Regions from separate parts of the Homo sapiens genome. Here region 1 is linked to region 2. Evidence: fine-mapped expression QTL. Tissue or cell type: lung. Region 2 holds a variant in brackets; the other region holds the start of a gene. All regions are shown on one strand. Distances are between the middles of the regions.

Region 1 (4,178 bases), 110 kb before region 2:
GCAGGGACATGGATGAAGCTGGGAGCCATCATTCTAAGCAAAGTAACACAACAGAAAACCAAACTCTGCATATTCTCACTTATAAGTGGGAGTTGAACGATGAGAACACATGGACACAGGGAGGGTAATATCACATACTGGGGCCTGTCGGGGCGTGGGGGAAAGGGGAGGGAGAGCATTAGGACAAATATCTAATGAATGCAGGGCTTAAAACCTAGATGACGGGTTGATAGATGCAGTAAACCACCATGTTTACTGTAACCACCATGTTACATAGGTATACATAGGCACATGTATACCTATGTAACAAACCTGCATGTTCTGCACATGTATCCCAGAACTTAAAGTTAAAAAAAAAATAGTAGGATTACTAAAAAAGCAGGATTACTGGCGGTTGGCAGAGGCCTTTTCTTGAGCTCAGGAATGGATGATGCCACTGAAAGAGCAGATGTGGAAATAAATTCTGGAAATGTTTCGCATACCACTTGTAATGCTGTTTTTAAGATAATTGCTTGGGTAAATAAATTCCTTATACATTGACTAGTAAAGAGATACTCAACTTTGTACATTTGATGCCATATTCACTTGCTGTCTAACTTATGTTACCATGGCATTAATTTAGTATAAATAAAAATGCTCTAGGTCTACTCAGTGCTGAGCCTTGAAATCTCAGCACTCAACATCTCTTATCCACTAAAGCACACACTGTTGTTTACACGTGGAAGACTGACTATGCAGCCAGTCTAGTAAGCAAGCAAGCAAGCAAGCAAGCAGGGTCCTAGATATTAAAAATGACCATTCCTGTAAACCATCAAGCCACAAATCAACAAGCTTAATCACAAAAGTTTCTTGAGGGAACAAAGTTGAAGTAATATCCATTGAGTCATTGTGGAACTATCTGTACTTGTGGTTGATTAGCCAGGTAAGCTGGTTTTTCCTCAGTTTCCTCACCTGTTAAACAAGAGGCAGAATGATGTTCTCTCTAAAACACTTCTTGCTTTGAAATACTATTACTCTAAATAAGACTTTGGAGAAACTCACAAAATACATCCTTGTTAACTCTCAATAAGCCCAAACAATATTCCAGGACCCCACAAAACCAGAAAACTAACAGGACCCCTTGTAGACCAGTCTCTTTGTGCAACGTAGGGAGAAAGGGCGGGGGGGACTAAAGAACCTCCCAAAAGGTATTAAAAATAGCAACATGTAATTATGAAAAATCTTGTTCCACATTAGGTAGCCACATTCAAGAAAAACTGTTGGAGATCTACTATGTCCAAGGCACGGTTTAAGTTATTACTGTTCAATTTTGAAATTATTATTGTTAACTTGTCAGTAATTTCTTAAACCTAAACTGGTGAAACTCTCCTTGGGTGGACATAAAAGTAAAGCCATGGCCAAGGAGGGAGACAGTCTACAAATAAACCAAAAATAAAATACAAGTGACATCATTAAAGGAAAAAAGCCAACACACTGCACAAAGATCAAAGACAAAACAGAGAAACATGTTTGGTTAATACTGGGCTTTGAGTATTTCATGTGCCTGAGAGGCCCGTCCGTCCATCCACACCACACTTCTTCACCATGCTGTTGCAAACCAATGACAAGTTCAGCTTCAGCGCGGACAGGGCGCAGGGCGCAGACCCTGTGCATATCCCAGAATCCCGGACCCACTGCCACTCCACTCTGGGAAGGAAGAAGGCGCTCCCCCTTGGGTGACTGTAAGATAAAGCAGCTTCTTCGATCTCTTTGTCCAATAAGAAAGAAACGTTGGCCCATAAAGAAAGAAAGAAACAAATAAATAGGAAAGGTGTGAGAAGGAAGGGAAGCTCCTTTCTTTTCTGTTTAAATTTCCCGCACCCTTTTACCTCCCCGCCTTCTCAAACGGTCTTTACTTTGAGCAGCAGAGACCCGGACCGCTCAATACCCGGCTATCCCTGGGAGGGTACTTGGAAAGTAGGCGGGACAGGCCGGATGAATAATTCGGTGTCCGACTTTTCCTGCCTGCGGCGCAGTCCCTCCCCGGCTTCGTTACTCGAGTGCACACGCGGCCGGGCTCTCGGCCCTCGATTGCTTCAGCCTATCACCCTGGGATGCCGCCTGCCGCTGCCGCCGCCGCCGCCGCCGCCACCGCCACCGCCACCGCCACCGCCACCGCCGTGGCTGCCGGGTTTGTGGGATCCGCCGCGGAGCAGGAGCCAGAGCTGTGGCCGGAGCTGTGGCCTGAGAGTCAGGGGGCGGGCAGGCTCATTCCAGAAGTGGGGGCCGAGGACAGGCGGGCTAGAACCCGGGGCCACCGCCCCCTACCCCTCCTCAGGCTGAGGGAACGGGCACTCGGAGCTTCTGAGGCGGCGGCGGCGGGAGCCGGTCAGAGGGGGCGGCCCCTGGCGGCGACGCCCCCAAGCCCAGCCCTGCCCGGCCCCGCTCCATCCCCAGCCAGAGCCTGGTCTGACCGCGAGAGACGCCGGCGGGGCTGAAGAAGGCGGCTCCGAGGAGGTGGGAGGGCGAGCCTCCCCTCCCGGGTTCTTCTGCGTCCTCTCCCGGGAGGGACCCACACACACCTGAGCCCGGACCCACCCTTGGTCGGGGCCACGCTGGATCCTCCTCCCGGCCTGGGTCCCGCCCGCCGACTGCAGGTGGGCTGCATCGCCCGAGCCTCGGGCAGTGGGCGACGGGGAAGGAGGTGAGAGGTGTCCGCGCCGGCTGCCGCTCGGGTCCCTGCCCTCGCTGCGCGCTCTCCTCCTCCCCTTACCGCAGGCAGGGCGCGGAGCCGCGCGCCAGCCCGCCCCGAAGCCGCCGCCTCGTCCCCCTCCCGCCTCGGGGCACCATGGAGCTCTCTCCGTCGTCCGGAGGAGCCGCGGAGGCGCTGTCCTGGCCGGAGATGTTCCCGGCGCTGGAGTCCGACTCGCCGCTGCCCCCGGAGGACCTGGACGCGGTTGTCCCAGTCAGTGGAGCCGTCGCCGGTGGCATGTTGGATCGGATCCTTCTGGAGTCCGTGTGCCAGCAACAGAGCTGGGTCCGGGTGTACGGTAAGGACCACAGGCCGTCTTAGAGGCTGGTGTTTCCTATTTTTGCTTGGGCTGAAATTCATTCCCTAAGTCACAGGCTCATTCCCAGTCCTCATCCGTGCTAGGTCAGTTTCCCACATCCCTTTTTGTTCTGGGGGTGCATTTCTGACAAGTTTCTTCAGACTATCACTTGGGCAGGGATGTCACTCAGTATGGTCTTTGGACCTCTTCAGACACCTGCAGTAAGTTTAATGCGGGAGTTGGGCTATCCAAGACGTAATTCTTAGGCGATTACTTCAAGGGAACAGCCAGGCAATCAATCTTCAAGAAGGTATGATGGAAAAACTCCATGAAACCAAGTGAATGGATTTTCGTCTCTTTTTATTGTTGAATGAGGCAAGACTGGAAACCAAGATATTATGAAAAAGCAGAGGATAAGCTAATGAATGAAAAAAATGCAAACTATGTATTTGGTGGGAGCAAGACTAATCTATAACCTCTGCCTGAACCTCACTCTCTCTAAAAGCAACCACTTATTCCAACGGGTGTGGATTGTTTCAGATTACACTATTGTTTCTGAATCTCGTTGTAAAGTGACTGGGTTGCCACTCAGCAGGTTAAAAGTGATGAACACACTAAAACTTTCCCTTTCTGCATTCCTGGTAACCACCTCTTTAATTAAAACTGAATGATGAGATTCTATTAGGGTGAGCCTTGTGGCAGCACTAAAACCATGCTGGTTTTGAAAACTCATAGCTTAAGGATTTATAGCCTGGCATTCAGGACTGAGCTGTGGCTTTCCAAAATATTGAAACGGCAAGATGTTTATCGCCTAGCTCACGTGACTGCAGAAGACATTAGTAACGTGGCTGAGTATAAGATGGCAAATTTGAAGCACCTGGGATCAAACACAATGTTAAGATGTTATCCTGCAGTCTTGTGCATCTAAGCCTGTAGTGATCAAGTACCTTATGTTTTTTTCTTTCATCTTTCTGAACAGGGTATATGCTTACTATTCAAGAGTGACCAAGACTTAGGTTTTTTTCTGTGTAGTTCAGTTGATTTGAAGACTTAATGTCCATCGCAAAGATCATAGAACTAGGAGTCCAGAGATCTCAGTTCTTGTCTCAGTTCTACCACTAAATGGCTATGGGATTTGGGGCAGATCGA
Region 2 (4,178 bases):
CGCCAGGTGTCTACTATTAAAGTGAGGGCATTTACTGGAAAAGAATGGGACCCTGCAACTTGGAATGGTGACGTGTGAGAGGACCCTGACGAAGCTGGGGACACTGAGCTTGTAAACTCTGATGAACCCTTTTTACCAGAAGAAACAGCTTCCTCATCCCCAGTAGTGGCAGCATCCCCTCCCCAACCCATGCTGCCATCATCCTTTCCACCTTTGTTTGAGGAGATATGCTGCCTAAGGCAACAGTGATGGCGTCCCCTGAGGCCGGTGCCTGGCAAGACACCCAGGACCCACCTCCAACACCCTGTGAGCTTCTAGACCTATAATTAGACTAAAGTCCCAGCAGGCTCCTAGAGGTGAGGTTCAGAGTGTGACCCACAAGGAGGTGTGCTACACTCGAAAAAAACTGCTGAGTTCTCTAATTTATATAAGCAGAAATCTGGAGAACAGGCATGGGAATGGATATTAAGGGTGTGGGATGATGGTGGATGGAACGTAGAGTTGGATCAGGCTGAATTTATCAATTTGGGCCCCCTAAGTAGGGATTCTGCATTTATGTGGCAGCTTGGGGAGTTAAAAAAAGGTTCTAATAGTTCATTTGCTTGGTTAGGTGAATTGTGAATTAAAAGATGGCCCACTGTGAGTAAGCTGGAAATGCCTAATCTCCCTTGGTTTAATGTAGAGGAAGGGATCCAAGGGTTTAGGAAGATTGTGATACTGGAGTGGATTAGTCACTTTAGACCTACTCATCCCAGCTGGAAGAGTCCAGAAGCTATACCCTTAGCGAAATGGATTTGTGAGGGCAGCATCTGCATCTTGGAAGAGCTCCATAGGGATTGCTTTTCTCTGTATGCCAGATCTAACTGTGGGAACTGCAGTCGTTCAACTACAAAATTTAAATGCAGTGGGAATAATTGGATTCCAGTGTGGCAGGGGCCAAGTGGTGGCACTCAACTGTCAAAAGCAAGGTAAACATAGCTACCATAATGGACAGCAGAGGCAAAGCAGCAATCAGAATAGTTTGACTTGTGTAGAGCTCTGCCATTGGCTAATTAATCATGGTGTTTCTAGAAGTGAAACTGATAGAAGCCTACGGCATTCCTACTTAATTTATATAAGCAGAAAACGTTCAGGTCAAGTGGACAGAAAACTAATTTGAATTATAAAAACAGAATCATGGCTCCTCAATTTCCAGACTTGAGCTAGTTTACAGACCCAGAACCCCTTGAATGAAGGGGAGGCCGGGTCCCCTTGAAGAAGGATCCCTCTACCGACAATTTATGTGTAAATCTTTCTCCCTGCTTCCCCAAAGGGACCTCTGGCCTTTTACCAGAGTAACTGTGCATTGGAGAAAGGGAAATGATCAGACATTTCCGGGACCATTGGACACTGGCTCTGAGCTGACGTTGATTCCAGGGGACCCAAAACATCACTGTGGTCCTCCAGTTAAAGTAGTGGCTTATGGAGGTCAGGTAATTAATGGAGTTTTAGCTCAGGTTTGACTTACAGTATCCATCGTCAAATGGAAGTGGTATATACATGATCGGGCTTGAGCAGGTCCTGAAGGCACAAGTAAGTTACATGAGGAAGTGGCTCAAACGCCCATGGTTTTCACTCCTGCCACCCTGCCTTCTCTCCCCCAGCCTGCACTGATGGCCTCATGGGGAGTTCCCTATGATCAGCTGACAGAGGAAGAGAAGACTAAGGCCTGGTTCACAGATGGTTCTGCACAATATGCAGGCACCACCTGAAAGTGGACAGCTGCAGCACTACAGCCCCTTTCTAGGACATCCCTGGAGGATAGCGGTGAAGGAAAATCTTTCCAGTGGGCAGAACTTCAAGCAGTGCACCTGGGTGTGCACTTTGCATGGAAGGAGAAGTGGCCAGATGTGTTATTATATACTGAGTCATGGGCTATAGTCAATGGTTTGGCCGGATGGTCAGGGACTTGGAAGAAGCATGATTGGAAAACTGGTGACAAAGAAATCTGGGGAAGAGGTATGTGGATGGGCCTCTCTGAGTGGTCAAAAACTGTGAAGGTATTTGTATCCCATGTGGGTGCTCACCAAAGGGTGACCTTGGCAGAGGAGGATTTTAATAATCAAGTGGATGGGATGACTCGTTCTGTATGCACCACTCAGCCTGTTTCCCCAGCCACCTGTGTCATTGCCCAATGGGCCCATGAACAAAGTGGTCATGGTGGCAGGGGTGGAGGTTATGCATGGGCTCAGCAACATGGACTTCCACTTACCAAGGCTGACTTG[G/A]CCATGGCCACTGCTGAATGCCCAATTTGCCAGCAGCAGAGACCAAAACTGAGCCCTCAAAATGGCACCATTCCTCTGGGTGATCAGCCAGCTAGTTGGTGACAGGTCGATTATATTGGACCTCTTCTATCATGGAAAGGGCAGAGGTTTGTCCTCACTGGAATAGACACTTACTCTGGATAGGGGCTTGCCTATCCTGCACATAATGCTTCTACCAAGACTACCATATGTGGACTCAAGGAATGCCTTATCCACTGTCATGGTATTCCACACAGCATTGCCTCTGACCAAGGCACTCACTTTATGGCTAAAGATGTGTGGCAGTGGGCTCATGCTTATGGAATTCACTGGTCTTACCATGTTCCTCATCATCCTGAAGCAGCTGGATTGATAGAACGGTAGAATGGCCTTTTGAAGTTACAATTACAATGCCATCTAGGTGAGAATACTTGGCAAGGCTGGGGCAGAGTTCTCCAGAAGGCTGTGCATGCTCTGAATCGGCATCTAATACATGGTACTGTTTCTTGCATAGCCAGAATTCACAGGTCCAGGAATCAAGGGATGGAAAAGTGGCACCATTCAGTATCACCCCTAGTGATCCACTAGCACAATTTTTGCTTCCTATTCCTGCAACATTATGTTCTGCTGGCCTAGAGGTCTTAGTTCCAGAGGGAAGAACACTGCCACCAGGAGGCACAACAGTGATTCCATTAAACTGGAAGTTAATATTGCCACCTGGACACTTTGGGCTCCTCCTACCTTTAAGTTAACAGGCTAAGAAGGAAGTTACTGTGTTGGCTGGGGTGATTGACTGGACTATCAAGATGAAATCAGTCTACTGCTCCACAATGGAGGTAAGGAAGAGTATGTGTAGAATACAGGAGATCCCTTGGAGCATCTCTTAGTATTACCATACTCTGTGATTAAGGTCAATGGGAAACTACAACAGCCCAATCCAGGCAAGACTACAAATGGCCCAGACTCTTCAGGAATGAAGGTTTGGGTCTCTCCACCAGGAAAAAAAACCATGACCTGCTGAGGTGCTTGCTGAAGGCAAAGGGAATACAGAATTGGTAGTAGTAGAAGAAGGTCATCAATACCAGCTACAACCATGTGGCCAGTTGCAGAAATGAGGACCATAATTGTCATGAGTATTTTCTCCTTTTGCTAAAAACATATTTGTACATTTATACACTTGTATTAAGAAAATATCTTCATTGTATCGGCATTTAAGTGTTGTTAACTTTATGTAATAACATTTGGGTTGGGGATTGGTGCGTCTCTGGTTGTACGAAGGATAGTTGTATTATGTTAGGCATAATTATGACCTTATTATTGTGTTTATTTGGAGATTATGATCTCAGGAGATGCATATGGGTTCAGGTTGACAAGGGGTGGACTTGTGATAGTTAATATTGATGGTTAATACACACCAGGAGGTTCATGAGAGGAAGCCAGGCACTGCACTAAGTAAGTGAAGCCTTATACTAACACTATTCATCTCTGTATCTTTGATAGTTTGACCCTGTTCCTCAAGGATACATAGTATGCCATACCCTTCTTAGGCAGCTACACAGACTGGAGTATTTTATATTTTAAAAGTGATACCCAGAACAAAACTACTTGCTGATGTTGATGATGGAATTAAATAACTGAAAGATGGTTCGTAAGCCAAATATTGAAATTTTGCATAAATTAAAAAGCAAAACATTGAAATCTGAAACACCCTGACTTTAAGATTTGAGTAAATCCATCCTATATTCTGTACAGAAAGAATCAAAGCAATGTATGAAATTGTTTCACAGGTTTTTTCAATTATGTACAAAATGCTTATAAAGTTAAAAGGTGCATCATTTGCCACTTAATTTCAATTGTGATTTAGCGTGTGCTTTCTTCCAGAAAATGAAATACAAT

What was found. PIP is the estimated chance that this variant, and not a neighbour inherited with it, causes the effect.
Region 1: RASAL2-AS1 starts here. The variant in region 2 is fine-mapped to the expression of RASAL2-AS1 in lung (TOPMed, PIP above 0.99). The same link has a PIP of 0.9 or more in subcutaneous fat.

What each region holds. Positions count from the first base shown.
Region 1 is chr1:178,091,666-178,095,843 of GRCh38, forward strand. It overlaps RASAL2-AS1 (RASAL2 antisense RNA 1), which reads right to left and starts at 2,328. Exons shown (of 2, transcript NR_027982.1): 1 at 1,896-2,328; 2 at 1-1,747. RASAL2 (RAS protein activator like 2) reads left to right here and starts at 2,439. Exons shown (of 18, transcript NM_170692.4): 1 at 2,439-3,029. The coding sequence starts at 2,828. RefSeq lists an enhancer at 1,915-2,416 and silencers at 2,038-2,087, 2,138-2,437, 2,508-2,667, 2,818-2,877.
Region 2 is chr1:178,200,680-178,204,857 of GRCh38, forward strand. The region is part of intron 1 of RASAL2 (RAS protein activator like 2); the gene reads left to right. Among named protein-coding and RNA genes, the nearest start is that of RASAL2, 110 kb to the left of the region's middle. The variant G/A (reference allele first, on the strand shown) is at 2,265.